2 separate regions of the Homo sapiens genome follow, and region 1 is linked to region 2. Evidence: fine-mapped expression QTL. Tissue or cell type: whole blood. Region 2 holds a variant in brackets; the other region holds the start of a gene. All regions are shown on one strand. Distances are from middle to middle.

Region 1 (6,518 bases), 230 kb before region 2:
GGGTTCACGCATTCTCCTGCCTCAGCCTCCCGAGTAGCTGGGACTACAGGTGCCCGCCACCACGCCCGGCTAATTTTTTTGTATTTTTAGTAGAGACAGGGTTTCACCATGTTAGCCAGGAAGGTCTTGATCTCCTGACCTCGTGATCTGCCCGCCTCAGCCTCCCAAAGTGCTGGGATTACAGGCTTGAGCCACTGCGCCTGTCCAATTTTTTGTATTTTTAGTAGAGATGGGGTTTCACCATGTTGACCAGGCTGGTCTCAAACTCCTGACCTCAGGTGATCCACCCACCTCGGTCTCCCAAAGTGCTGGGATTACAGGTGTGAGCTACCATGCACGGACTGCTAGCTTTTATTATATTTGAGTCTGGAACTCATGGGAGAGGTCATAAATTGACATATAAATCTTGAGCTGGACACAGTGGCTTACACCTGTAATCCCAGCACTTTGGGAGGCCAAGGTTGGAGGGTTGCTTGAGCCTAGGAGTTTGAGACCAACCGCCGGCAACACAGGGATACTCCATCTCTATAAAAAATTAAAAAAATTAGTCAGGCATGGTGGCACATGCCTGTAGTTGTAGCTACTTAGAAGGCTGAGGCAGGAAGATCACTTGAACTCAGGAGGTTGAGGCTACAGTGAACCATGATCATACCACTGCACTCCAGCCTAGGCAACAGAGCAAGACTCTATCTCAAAAAATAGTCAGTCTGGGTGTGGTGGCTCATGCCTGTAATTCCAGCACTTTGGGAAGCTTAGGTGGGTGGATCTTTTAAGGTTGGGAGTTCGAGACCTACCTGGCCAACATGGTGAAACTCCACCTCTTCTAAAATATATAAAAATTAGCCAGGCATGGTGGCAGGTACCTGTAATCCCAGCTACTCAGGAGGCTGAGGCAGGAGAGTTGCTTGAACCCAAGAGGCGGAGGTTGCAGTGAGCCAAGATTGCACCATTGCACTCCAGCCTAGGCGACAGAGTGAGAGTCTGTCTCAAAAAATAAAATAGAATAAAATAAAATAAAAAGAATAAATGAAAAAATAAATACCGCGGGTGCGGTGGCTCACACCTATAATCCCAGCACTTTGGGAGGCTGAGGCAGGCGAATCACGAGGTCAGGAGCTCAAGACCAGCCTAGCCAACATGATGAAACCCCCATCTCCACTAAAAATACAAAAAATTAGTTGGGCATGGTGATGGGCACCTGTGATCCCAGCTACTCGGGAGGCTGAGGCAGGAGAATCACTTGAACCTGGGAGGCGGAGGTTGCAGTGAGCCGAGATGGAACCACTGCCCTCCAGCCCGGGGCGATAGAGTGAGACTCCCTCTCTGCCGGGCGCAGTGGCTCAGGCCTGTAATCCCAGCACTTTGGGAGGCCAAGGCGGGCGGATCACAAGGTCATGAGATCGAGACCATCCTGGCTAACACGGTGAAACCCCGTCTCTAATAAAAATATAAAAAGTTAGCCGGGCGTGTTGGCGGGCGCCTGTAGTCCCAGCTACTCGGGAGGCTGAGGCAGGAGAATGGCGTGAACCCCGGAGGCGGAGCTTGCAGTGAGCCGAGATCTCTCCACTGCACTCCAGCCTGGGCACAGAGCGAGACTCCGTCTCAAAAAAAAAAAAAAAAAGAAAAAAGAAAGAGTGAGACTCTGTCTCAAAAGAAAAAAAATAAAAATAAAATCAATAAGTCAGTCTTGGAGCCAGCATATCTAGGCGGTGTTTGTGGCTAATGTTGTAGGTTAGCCCATATTCCCACCCCTTCTCCTTTGCTTTTCTCTGCTCTGAGGCTAAATGCTGCAGACTAGAATCCCCAGGCCCCCTTGCAGTTAGAAGTGGCATTGATACAGTTTTGGCTAATGAAATGTACACAGAAACCTGCTGGGTAATTTCTTTTCTTTTTTCCAACTATCCAGACTTATAGGAGATGGGGAGGTTTGTGCTGCAGGGATACTGACCTTTGGTGCTTTCCCTCTTCCCTACCTTGAATGTGGATGTCCTGGCTGGGAACCCAGCTGCCAGCTCATGACCAGGAGGTAACAAGCAGGAATAAAAGGCCACCAGAGTCACAGAGACGAAGCTGCGGCGTTACCGAGGTGCGAATCACTGTGATTCCTAGGTGCGAATCATCACCAGCAATCACTTCTCTCAGGACTCCTTGTTAAGAAAAATAAACTCCTATTTATTGAGACCATGAGAGTTACGTTGAGAGGTATATTGTTATTGAAGCTGACAATATTCAATGCCATGAGTTTGAAGATCATCCCTGGGTCATTAACATATAAGCAGGGAAGAAAATGTGGCCCGAAACAGTCTGGGACATGAGAAAGCAGTAGGAGAGGAAGCCCCAAGGAAAGGGGGAAGCTGCCGCGCGGTGGGCAGAGCCAGGAGCACCGGGCTGAGGCGGCCGGGAGCGCAGCGGCTTCTAGGGGTGAGTGGGACCCACGCGGCCCCACCTGCTCCTCCCGCGCGCGGCCCCACCCCCCTGCCCCGCCCCGCCTGGTTTATAGGTCCCGGCCCGAGCCTCCGGCCGCCCGCCGGGTTTGTCCCGCGATCCCCGACCATGCCCGCCGACCTCAGCGGTACTTGGACCCTGCTCAGCAGCGACAACTTCGAGGGCTACATGCTGGCCCTAGGTAAGGCGGAGGGGAGGCGGCGGCGGCGCGAGGCTCGCCGTGGGTCTCGGGATCAGGCGAAGGCGGCCGGGCCGGGCCTGTAGGTACGTCCTCTGTCCGTGCCTCCGCCCTGCTGCGCCCACCGTCGCCCAGTCGCCCCCGAGTCCGCTGGTCCTTGGCGCCTCCGTCCATCGGGCGCGGGACCCCAGTCCTTCAGTCCCCCAGTCCGTCCTTTCCCGCGCCCACCCGCCCCCCTGTCCCCACGGCCGTCTCTCCACGCCCTCTGTTCCCCCGGCCGTCGGTCCCCCACCCGTCCGTCCCTGAGTGCCCGCGTCCAGCCCCACGTCCGTCTCTACCCGCACGCGGCACACCTGCGGAGACTGCAGACTCGGGGTCCGGCCGGGGAGGGGGGTCCGGCCGGGGAGGGGGCGCCCGGGACCGAAGCCTCTGCCCGGCCACCCTCCCCGCAGCCGCCTTCCGTGCAGGCCCCGGGGCCCCGGGCGCGCTCCCGCAGCGAAGTCCCAGCAGCCTCGGCGCACCCGGAGCGGGTCGGGGATGCAGAATCCTGGAGCCAGCGGACGACCCTTCAGGTCCGGGCACCCGCGGGAGTGCAGAGCCTGGTTCGGCCCGGGGCGTGCCCCGACCGCCGCCTCCCACGAGGGCTGGGTGCCCGCGGCGTTCTTGCTCCCGGGGGCCCCGCGCTGTGCTTCCCGCCCTCATCGCGGTGCCAACGGTGCGCGGACTCTCAACTCACTGCAACCTCCGCCTCCTCGGTTCAAGCGATTCTCCTGCCACAGCCTTCCAAGTAGCTGGGATTACACGCGTGCGCCAGCCACCACGTCCGGCTAATTTTGTACTTTTAGTAGAGAAGGGGTTTCACTATATTGGTCAGGCTGGTGTCCAACTCCTGACCTCAGGTGATCCACCCGCCTTGGCCTCCCAAAGTGCTGGGATTACAGGTGTGAGCCACGCGCCCTGCCACGAGTGTAGTTTTTCTTGTAGCTTTAGGAATCTGGGAAGTTGCCGTGCCGGCCAATCCCTGAACCCTTGACCCGTGGGCAATTTTTGTTTTCTTTTTTTCTTTCTTTCTTTCTTTCTTTTTTTTTTTTTTTTTTGAGACGGAGTCTCGCTCTGTTGCCCAGGCTGGAGTGCAGTAGTACGATCTCGGCTCACTGCAAGCTCCGCCTACCGGGTTCACGCCATTTTCCTGCCTCAGCCTCTCCGAGTAGCTGGGACTATAGGCGCCCGCCACCACGCCCAGCTAATTTTTGTATTTTTTAGTAGAAACGGGGTTTCACCATGTTGGCCAGGCTGGTCTCGAACATCTGCCCTCGTGATCTGCCCACCTTGGCCTCCCAAAGTGCTGGGATTACAGGCGTGAGGCACCGCACCGGCCAATTTTTGTTTTCTTAACCTTAGGGCCCATCTTAGTTGATAAAGGGGCATTTATTTTGCTCTTTCATATCCCAAGAGATAAGAGTGTTCCTCTGGGTATGGGAAAAGCACCTCTCACTTGAGAGTCTTATGATCTTCTTCAGAGGAAGAGCAGAGAATTCTTTTATGGCCTGCTTCAGGGAAGAGGGGCAAAAGAAGGTCTGAGGGGGACCTTCCTGCTACTGTTATTTCCTCAAATGCCAAGTGATATGGTTTGGCTGTGTCCCCACCCAAATCTCATGGGAGTTGTAGTTCCCATAATTCTCATGTGTTGTGGGAGGGACCTGAGGAGAGGTAATTGAATCATGGGGTAGTTTTCCCCACACTGTTCTGGTGGTAGTGAATGTCTCATGAGATTTGATGGTTTTACAAGGGGTTTCCCCTTTCATTTGGCTCTCATTCTCTCTTGCCTGCCACCATGTAAGACGTGCCTTTTGCCTTCTGCCATGATTTTGAGGCTTCCCCAGCCACGTGGAACTGCGGCAGTTAAACCTCTTTTTCTTTATAAGTTACCCACTCTTGCCAGGCTCGGTGGCTCACGCCTGTAATCCCAGCACTTTGGGAGGCTGAGGCGGGTGGATCAACTGAGGTCAGGAGTTCAAGACCAGCCTGGCCAACATGGTGAAACCCCGTCTCAACTAAAAATACCAAAAAGAAATTAGCTGGGCATGGTGGCGGGCGCCTGTAATCCCAGCTACTTTGGGAGGCTGAGGCAGGAGAATCACTTGAACCTAGGAGGCAGAGGTTGCAGTGAGCTGAGATGGTGCCATTGCACTCCAGCCTGGGCAACAAGAGTGAAACTCTGTCTAAAATAATAATAATAATAAGTTACCCACTCTTGGATATGTCTTTATCAGCAGCGTGAAAATGGACATAAGGTGCCATGTTCTGAGGTCGCCTATCCAGAAACCCTTAAATCCAGAACGGTTTTCTGAAAACCAGCAACTGTGTTTCAACTTCAGATCTAATTTGTTAAAGTACTAAGTACTTACATCAATTTGTTAAAGTGCTAAGTACTTAGGTCACACTTATAGCACTAGAGTGGTTGTTTACATAATACTGTAATACTCTTTTTTTTTTTTTTTTTTTTTTAGATGGAGTCTGGCTCTATTGCCTAGGCTGGAGTGCAGTGGCGCGATCTCGGTGTGAGCCACTGTGCCCAGCCATAATACTATAATACATTTTATCTTAAGAATTAAGTTGGTCTGGGTGCAGTGGCTCACACCTGTAATCCCAGCACTTTGGGATGCTGAGGCAGGTGGATCATGAGGTCAGGAGTTCAAGACCAGCCTGGCCAACATGGTGAAGCCCCACCTCTACTAAAAATACAAAAAATTAGCTGGGCATGATGGCATGCACCTGTAATCCCGCTACTTGTGAGGCTGAAGCAGGAGAATTGCTTGAACCCAGAAGGTGGAGGTTGCAGTGAGCCGAGATTGCGCCATTGCACTCTAGCCAGGGAGACAAAGCAAGACTCCATCTTGAAAAAAAATAATTAAGCTAGCAGACTGGGCAGGTGGCTCACGCCTATAATCCCAGCACTTTGGGAGGCCGAGGTGGGTGGATCACCTGAAGTCAGGAGTTTGAGACCAGCCTGGCCAACATGGTGAAATACCCCATCTCTACTAAAAGTACAAAAATTAGCTAGGCATGGTGGCTCATGCCTGTAGTCCCAGCTAATTGGGAGGCTGAGGCACGAGAATCGCTTGAACCTGAGAGGTGGAGGTTGCAGTGAGCCCAGATCACGACACTGCACTCTAGCCTGGGCAACAGCATGAGACTTGGTCTCAAAAAAAATAAGTCAATAAGACAAAAAAAAAAATTCAGCTAGCAATCTTGAATTTTACTGATTTACTTGAATATATAATTAACTTTAAATTTATATGCTTGTTCATGTACATGTAAGGAAAATACATTCCATAAAAAATCACAGATATAGTACTTAGATCTTTAAACTGTAGGGTCTAGGAAAATAATAAATGATCGCCTCTTTTTTTGTTGTTGTTGTTGAGATGGAGTCTCTCTCTGTTGCCCAGGCTAGAGTGCAGTGGTGCGATCTCGGCTCACTGCAACCTCTGCCTCCTGAGTTCAAGCAATTCTCCTGCTTCAGCCTCCTGAGTAGCTGGTATTACAGGTGCCCACCACCTCTCCTGGCTAATTTTTGTATTTTTAATAGAGACGGAGTTTTACCATCTTGGCCAGGCTGGTCTTGAACTCCTGACCTCGTGATCCACCCGCCTTGGCCTCCCAAAGTGCTGGGATTACAGGCGTGAGCTACCGTGCCTGGCTGATTGCCTCTTTTTTAGTAGTAGAAGTGAGGTAAATGCCTGTTGGCAGTGATGCTAAGGGTCAAATAAGTCACCAGCAAATACACAGCACACATCTCATGATGTGCTCCAGCTGGCATCTCATTTGAGGGCAGAAAATCACTCCCTTTTGTCTAAAAACTAGTGTTCAGGAACTGATCCTGCAGCTCCCA
Region 2 (8,083 bases):
TAAGCAATTATCCTGCCTCAGCTTCCCGAGTAGCTAGGACTACAGGCACGTGCCACCACACCAGCTAATTTTTGTATTTCTAGTAGAAACGGGATTTCACCACGTTGGCCAGGATGGTCTTGATGTCTTGACCTCATGATCCGCCCGCCTCGGCCTCCCAAAGTGCTGGGATTACAGGCGTGAGCCACTGTGCCCGGCCTGAAGTTTTTACCATGAGACAGTAAAATCAGAAAAAATATTTAGGTTTAGGTTGTTTTGAGAAAGTAATTAAATATAAACTTCTAAAAAGGATAGATGTTATTAGCACACAACAATGCCCGGCTAATTTTTGTGTTTTTTTGCAGAAATAGGGTTTCACATGTTGCCTAGGCTGGTCTTGAACTCCTGAGCTCAAGCCATCTGCCTGCCTTGGCCTCTGAAAGTGCCAGAATTACAGCAGGTGTGAGTCAGAGTGTACAGCCCTGACCGTGGTTTTTGTTTGTTTGTTTGAGATGGAGTCTCGCTCTGTTGCCCAGGCTGGAGTGCAGTAGTGCGATATCCCAGCTCACTGCAACCTCCGCCTCCCGGGTTTAAGCGGTTCTCCTGCCTCAGCCTCCCGAGTAGCTGGGTTTACAGGTGCGTGTCACCACGCCTGGCTAATTTTTTGTATTTTTAGTAGAGATGGGGTTTCACCATGTTAGCCAGGATGGTCTCGATTTCCTGACCTTGTGATCCGCCCGCCTCAGCCTCCCAAAGTGCTGGGATTACAAGCGTGAGCTGCCGTGCCCAGCCTGTTTTGTGTGTGTGTTTTTTTGAGATGTTGTTGGCTCTGTTGTCCAAACTGGAGTGCAGTGATGGAATCATGGCTAATTGCAGCCTCCAACTCCTGGGCTCAAGTGATCTACCCACCTCAGCCTCTCAAGTAGCTGGGATTACCGATGCATGCCACCACACCCAGCTAATTTAAACAAAAATGTTTTTTGGTAGAGAGTGTCTGAATATGTTGCCCAGGCTGGTCTTGAACTTCTGGCCTCAAGCAATTCTTTCACTTTAGCCTCCCAAAGTGTTGGGATTATAGGCGTGAGGAACCATGCCTGGCCCCAATTTATGTTTTTTATTTAATGCTGTTTAAATGTTAGTTTGTTGACATCCAGTTAAATAGGAATTCAACCAAAAAAAATAACTATTGTATTCAAGACCCATCCTGTGTTGTAGGGCAGCTGTCCCCATTCTTTTTAGCCCCAGGGACTGGTTTTGTGGAAGACGGTTTTTCCACAGACAGGGTTGGGGTGATGGTCTCAGGATGAAACTGTTCCACCTCAGATCATCAGGCATTAGATTCTCATAAGGAGTGTGCAACCTAGATCCCTTGCATGCACAGTTCACAGTAATGTTTGCACTTCTATGAAACTCTGATGCCATCGCTGATCTCACAGGAGGAGGAGCTCAGGCAATAATGCTCACTTGCCCACCGCTCACCTCCTGCTGTGTGGCCTGGTTTTTAACAGGCCACAGACCTGTACCACTCTGTGGCCTAGGGGTTGAGGACCCCTCTTGTAGAGGATTAGAAACTTGACTAAGGCTGGGTGTGGTGGGACATGCCTGTAGTCCCAGCTACTTGAGGCTGAGGCTGCAGTGAGCTGAGATGGTTCCACTGCACTCCAGTCTGGGTGGACAGAGTGAGGCCTTGTCTTAAACAAACAAACAAAAAATTAGCCGGGCATGGTGGTGCACCCCTGTAGCTCCAGCTGCTCGGGAAACTGAGACAAGAGAGTCACTTGAGCCTGGGAGGTTGAGGCTGCAGTGAGCCATGATTCCCTTGACAGAGCAAGACCTTGTCTGAAAAAAACAACAAAACAATAAAAAAAGTAATTTATTCTGCCTTGGGTAAGGTCAATGATTTGAAAAGTGTTAAATAGAGGAGCAATTGTATTTGGTTTTGGGGTGGAGAGAATCCATCAAGACTTTAGACAGGAGCAAGTGAGAAGGTCCTGGAAGAATAAATTGGAATTTAAAAAGAACAAGACAAAGGACACAGTGGGGAAAGGGAAAGTTGGAGCAAAAACACAGGGGCAGAAAAACTTGGGATGCATTCTGGAAGTCCTCTGGTGGGTGGTTGTAAAAGAATGTGGCTGGAAGGCAGTGTTCATGTGGGCTTGTAAAAATAGGTGGTTTATGTTGCAGAACACTTTGAATGCCATTGTGGGGAGTTCAGTCATTGCTTCGTAGACAGGAGGGGAACTTGGAGGATTTTGAAGTGGACAGTGATAGAAATAGATCTGTACTTCAGGAAGGTGAATCTTGGCAATATTATGTGGTACAGATAGGGCAGATGAAAAGGGATAATTCACCTAATTGGATAACTGTGGTAAAGATAATAAAAAATATTTTTAAAAAAGAAAATGGGGATATTGTGTAGTATGGATAGGGTAGGAGGAAGAGAGAGAAAGCTGGTTAAGAAGGCCTTGGGTGAGAAGTATTGAAAGCCTAAAAGGTAATGGTGGTGGTAGAAATGGAGAGATTTTATAGATATAAGCTGATTAGATGGATAGACAAAGCAAGCTTTTAGCCTGTGTGAGAACAGCAGAATGGTGAGAACATTAAAAAGAAATAGAAAGGAGGCCAAAGAGCTGGTATTGTTTTGGGGATAGAGGTTTCGGCTTTAGTTGTGTGAGATTGAATGAAATGCTGGAAGGATAGCTAGGTAGAGGAGTCGAGTAGTCTATAGAAAAATGTATGTGTGTATGTATGGGGACATTAGGTATTAGAGATGTTAATGTTTTGGTTCATAGTTACAAATACATAGTACTTTATATCTAAAGCCCACCAAGGAGGTTTCAGCCTTTCTTGTCTTGTTTGTAACATTCAACACTTTGGTAGGTCCTAGGTAGAACACAAAAGAAAAAAGTTTTGTTTTGTTTTTTAAAATTTAAATATCAACAGTATTCAACAACTATCAACATTTTGGCAATCTTGTTCTGTCATCCCCTAACAAATTCCTTAATATCATCTAATACCCAGCCTATCTTCAGACTACCTGATTATCTAAAAAATGTATTTTTAGGCCGAGTGTGGTGGTTCACACCTGTAATCCCAGCACTCGAAGGCTGAGGCTGGAAGATTACATGAGTCCAGGAGTTCGAGACCAGCCTGGGCAACATAGCGAAACCCCGTCCCTACTAAAAATACAAAAAGCTAGCCAGGCGTGGTGGCGTGTGCCTGTAATCCCAGCTACTTGGGAAGCTGAGGTGGGAGAATCACCTGAGCCCAGGAGGTCAAGGCTGCAGTGAGCTGAGATCATGCCACTGCACTCCCCAGCCTGGGCAACCAGAGGGAGACCCTGTCTCAAAAACAAACAAACAAACAAAAAAATACATTGTATTTGGTTGATAAATAACGCAAGTCTCTCTTTTTTTTTTTTTTTTTTTTTTGAGATGAAGTCTCGCTCTCTTACCAGGCTGGAGTGCAGTGGTGCGATCTCAGCTCACTGCAACCTCTGCCTCCCGGGTTCAAACAATTCTTCTGCCTCAGCCTCCCAAGTAGCTGGGATTACAGGTGCACGTCACCATGCCCAGCTAATTTTTGTGCTTTAGTAGAGATGGGGTTTCACCATGTTGACCAGGATGGTCTTGATTTCTTGACCTCGTGATCTACCCATCTCAGCCTCCCAAAGTGCCAGGATGACAGGCGTGAGCCACCGTGCCTGGCCCACAAGCCCAGGGTTATAAAACCCTGTCTCCCCAATTATGCTATTTGTTTGAAGAAACTTGGTTGATTTATTCTGTAGATTGTTTCATATACTGAATTTGCCTGTTTATATCTTTGATGTGTCATCTAAGTTGCTTCTTTCCTCCCTATATGTCTTCTAAACTGGTAGTCAGATCTAAAGCTTGATTTTATTCAGGGTTTGGTTTTTTAAACAGTTTTCATTTTAAGGGGAGTGGGGCAAGAATACTTAATAAGCTGTGTATTTCCTTTGTTCGAGACCAGCCTGGCCAACATGTTGAAACCCCATCTCTACTAAAACCACAAAAATTAACCTGGTGGTGTGTTGGGCACCTGTAATCCCAGCTACTCGGTAGGCTGAGGTAGGAGAATCGCTTGAACCCATGAGGTTGAGGCTGCAGTGAGCCAAGAT[C/A]GTGCCACTGCACTTCAGCCTGGGTGACAAGAGCGAAACTTCATCTCAAAAAAAAAAGAGTTGGGAAAAGGTAACATTCTATAATTCTTTCATTTCTTCTGCATTTATTAGCTAGAATTTTTCTGTAAAGAACTTACCCTCAGCCGGGTGCTGTGGCTCACACCTGTAATCCTAGCACTTTGGGAGACTGAGGTGGGCGGATCATATGAGGTCAGGAGTTTGAGACCAGCCTGGCCTACATGGTGAAACCCTGTCTCTACTAATAATACAAAAATTACCCGGGCGTGCTGGTGGGCTTCTGTAATCCCAGCTACTCGGGAGGCTGAGGCAGGAGAATTGCTTGAATCCCGAAAAAGGAGGTTGCAGTGAGCCAAGATCATGCCACTGCACTCCAGCCTGACCTGGGTGACAGAGTGAGACTCCATCTCAAAAAAAAAGAAAAGAGAAAAAAAAGAACTTACTTTCATTGACTATTTGGTTATCCTGGAATATTTTATACAGGCTATACAGACTAGATGTATGCTTAATTCTGTTTTATTTGCTGTTTTCAGGATAATGCATTTTCTTCCCTCTGTAACCATTGATCTATTAATGAAGTTTTTAAAAAAAAAAGTATCGTAAGCTTATGAATTTATATATTTGACTTTTAAAAATCAATTTGCAGTATTTTTTACATGTTAGGAACAAGAGAACGTTCTTGCTATTGGAAGTGACGTTGAAAGTCATGCTTTAGAGGGGTTGATCTTGCAACAGGGTTAAGCAGTGGTTTAAAGCAGTGCTTTTTAGCTGGGTATTTGTAACATAATCTTTGAAAATTAACCCAAATCAACAAATCCATATCTGGGGCCTATCTAGACTGGGAGAGTCTAGACTCCTTTGTTTTTCAAAAGGCCCCCGTGTCATTCTGTTTCATACAACTCTGTTTAAGGACTATTGGATCAAAGACTAAAAGCCCAAAGAACAGTCCAGCTATTGCAAGTATCCTAGGTATGTGGTAGTAAGGACATGGATTGAGGTAATATCAGTGGGAATGAGAGGAAGGGAGGGATAGAATAAAGCAACTTTATATCTTAGAAGTTTCCATATGGTATTTTGTGAATAATGTTGGTAATAATACAAGGTTTCAAAGAGTAGTGACAAAGATGACTCCAACATTTATGGTATCGGGGCCTGGGAGAATACTGTTGATAGGGAAGATTGGCAGAGATTGCTAGTTTAGGGGAGAAGATAATGGTTTTTTGGACATGAGGAGAGTTAAGATGATGGCTGTATTTCAGAGGGAACTCGGGGAGGTTGCAATGTGTTTTATGTCTTGCTTTTTCTGAATGTGTCATTCATTCTCTTGGCATAGTACTCAACTAGTGAATATAAGTCATGCTCCATTGATTGGGAAGGTTAATAAATGCTAAGTTTTCATTTGATACATGTGATCATAAAAATATTTGATATTTAAATAAAGAACCATCAGTTTAAAATAAAATGGCAAACAGACTAGAAAAAACATTGTAGCAAATAGAAAAAGATTAATATAAAAATATGTAAACATTTAAAAAACAAAAAAATCAGTAAACTAGGCAAAGGACTTAAACAGATAATTCTCACAACTGGGAAATGTATGTCATTCATTTCATCAACATTTACTGAGCTCTTATGTCAGGTACTGTTGTAAGTGCTAGCAAACGAGACAGGAGATCTCTGAGCATTCTGGTGGTAGAGTGAGAGACAGACAGTGTGAGAGATGGACAATAGACATGCTCCAGAAAACAAGAATTTCAAATAGCGATGATGCTATTAAGAAAATTAGGGGCCAGACAGCCGGGTGCGGTGGCTCATGCCTGTAATCCCAGCACTTTGGGAGGCTGAGGCGGGTGGATCACGAGGTCAGGAGATCGAGACCATCCTGGCTAACATGGTGAAACCCCATCTCTACTAAAAAAAAAATACAAAAAATTAGCCAGGCGTGGTGGCAGGCGCCTGTAGCCCCAGCTACTCAGGAGGCTGAGGCAGGAGAATGGCGTGAACCTGGGAGGCGGAGTTTGCAGTGAGCCGAGATCGCGCCACTGCACTCCATCCAGCCTCCTGGGTGATGGAGTGAGACTCCGTCTCAAAAAAAAAAAAAAAAAAAAAAAAAAAAGAAAAGAAAATTAGGGGCCAGACGTGGTGGCTCACACCTATAATCCCAGCACTTTGGGAGGCTGAGTCAGGAGTTTGAGAACAGACTGGGCAACATAACAAGACTTTGTCTCTACAAATAAAATAAAATATTAGTTGGGTGTGTTGGTGTGTGCCTGTAGTCGCAGCTGTTTTGGAGGCTGAGGTGGGAGGATCACTTGAGCCCAGGAGTTCAAGGTTACAGTGAGCTATGATTGTGCCACTGTACAGTAGCCTGGACGGGTAGGGCATTGAGGTAGAGAGTGACTTTGGTTTTTATGTTATTTATTTATCCTGTTCTCGGGAACACATCGGTTATGGTGTTGTGTAGTTGGAGGTTAGCATTCCTAATTATCTGGAAAAAATATTGGTCAGATTTAAGTTCTGTTGTGGTTCCTGATAATTGGATTCGTAATTACTTTTCTTTTTTAGATTTTTCCTTTGTTTGGTTATTCTTGAAAAAGATTTTATATTGGATAGAGTGTAGAGTTTTTCCTAACTAGAAAAATTGGTTGTTTTTTTTTTCTTTCTTTTTTTTTTTGAGACGGAGTCTCACTCTGTGACCCAGGCTGGAGTGCAGTGGTGCGATCTCAGCTCACTGCAACCTCCACCTCCTGGGTTCAAGTGATTCTCCTGCCTCAGCCTCCTGAATAGCTGGGATTACAGGTGTGTGCCACCACACCTGGTTAATTTTTGTATTTTTAATAGAGACGGGGTTTCACCGTGTTGGCTAGGCTGGTCTTGATCTCCTGACCTCAAGTGATCCACCCATCTCGGCCTCCCAAAGTGCTGGGATTACAGGCGTGAGCCACCGCACGCGGCCGGTTGTTTCTTACAGAAGTTACTTACTTGGATTCTTTTCACACAGTAGTGTTGGCTTTGTTCTGTTGGGAGGGAAACTATTCCTCTAAAAAATGTTCACATTTTTCCTATTACTTCATTCAGTAGTGAAATGTAATGATTTGACTCTGCCATGAGTCAGTGGCATATCTGAGGGATCTTTGAAGTTAAAGGAAATTGGCCAGGCGCAGTGACTCACGCTTATAATCCCAGCACTTTGGGAGACCGAGGCAGGTGAATCTGAGGTGAGGAGTTCGAGACCAGCCTGGTTGACATGGTGAAACCCCGTCTCTACTAAAAATACAAAAATTAGCTGGGCGTGGTGGCGTACGCCAGTAATCCCAGGTACTCAGGAGGCTGAGGCAGGAGAATTGTTGAATCCGGGAGGCAGAGGTTGCAGTGAGCCGAGGTCGTGCCATTGCACTCCAGCCTGGGCGACAAGAGCAAAACTCCGTCTTAAAAAAACACAAAACAAAAGAAAACCCAGAAGTTAAAGGAAATCACTGTATAGTTAAACGAATTGACTAGAAAGTGTCTTTGTCCTTTGCTATTTAATTACACAATATATATACATCATGTAACCAAATGTTTCAAACTATAATTAATGTATGGAGAGTTCAGTGCCCTTTTTTTTTTTTTTTTTTTTTTTGTGAGATGGTGTCTTGCTTTGTTGCCCAGGCTGGAGGGCAGTGGTGGGATCTCAGGTTCATTGCAGCCTCCACCTCCTGGGTTCAAGCAATTCTCCTGCCTCAGCCTCCCTAGTAGCGGGGATCACAGGCGCATACCACCATGCCTGGCTAATTTTTGTATTTTTAGTAAAGATGGGGTTTTACCATGTTGGCCAGGCTGGTCTCGAACTCCTGACCTCAAGTGATCCGCCCAACTTGACTTCCCAAAGTGCTGGGATTACAGGCATGAGCCACCATGCCTGGCCCAATGCACTTCTTTAAAGAGAAGTAGTAAGTGGTTTGCACG

The links. PIP is the estimated chance that this variant, and not a neighbour inherited with it, causes the effect.
Region 1: it holds the start of RBP7, and the variant in region 2 is fine-mapped to the expression of RBP7 in whole blood (TOPMed, PIP above 0.99).

The regions. Positions count from the first base shown.
Region 1 is chr1:9,994,706-10,001,223 of GRCh38, forward strand. RBP7 (retinol binding protein 7) reads left to right here and starts at 2,523. Exons shown (of 4, transcript NM_052960.3): 1 at 2,523-2,626. The coding sequence starts at 2,554. It overlaps LOC124903840 (basic salivary proline-rich protein 2-like), which reads right to left and starts at 3,384. Exons shown (of 2, transcript XM_047436754.1): 1 at 2,977-3,384; 2 at 2,014-2,147. The coding sequence starts at 3,325. The coding sequence ends at 2,014. It also overlaps a transcript of NMNAT1 not described here. RefSeq lists a silencer at 4,272-4,472.
Region 2 is chr1:10,223,645-10,231,727 of GRCh38, forward strand. The region is part of intron 1 of KIF1B (kinesin family member 1B); the gene reads left to right. Among named protein-coding and RNA genes, the nearest start is that of KIF1B, 17 kb to the left of the region's middle. The variant C/A (reference allele first, on the strand shown) is at 4,118.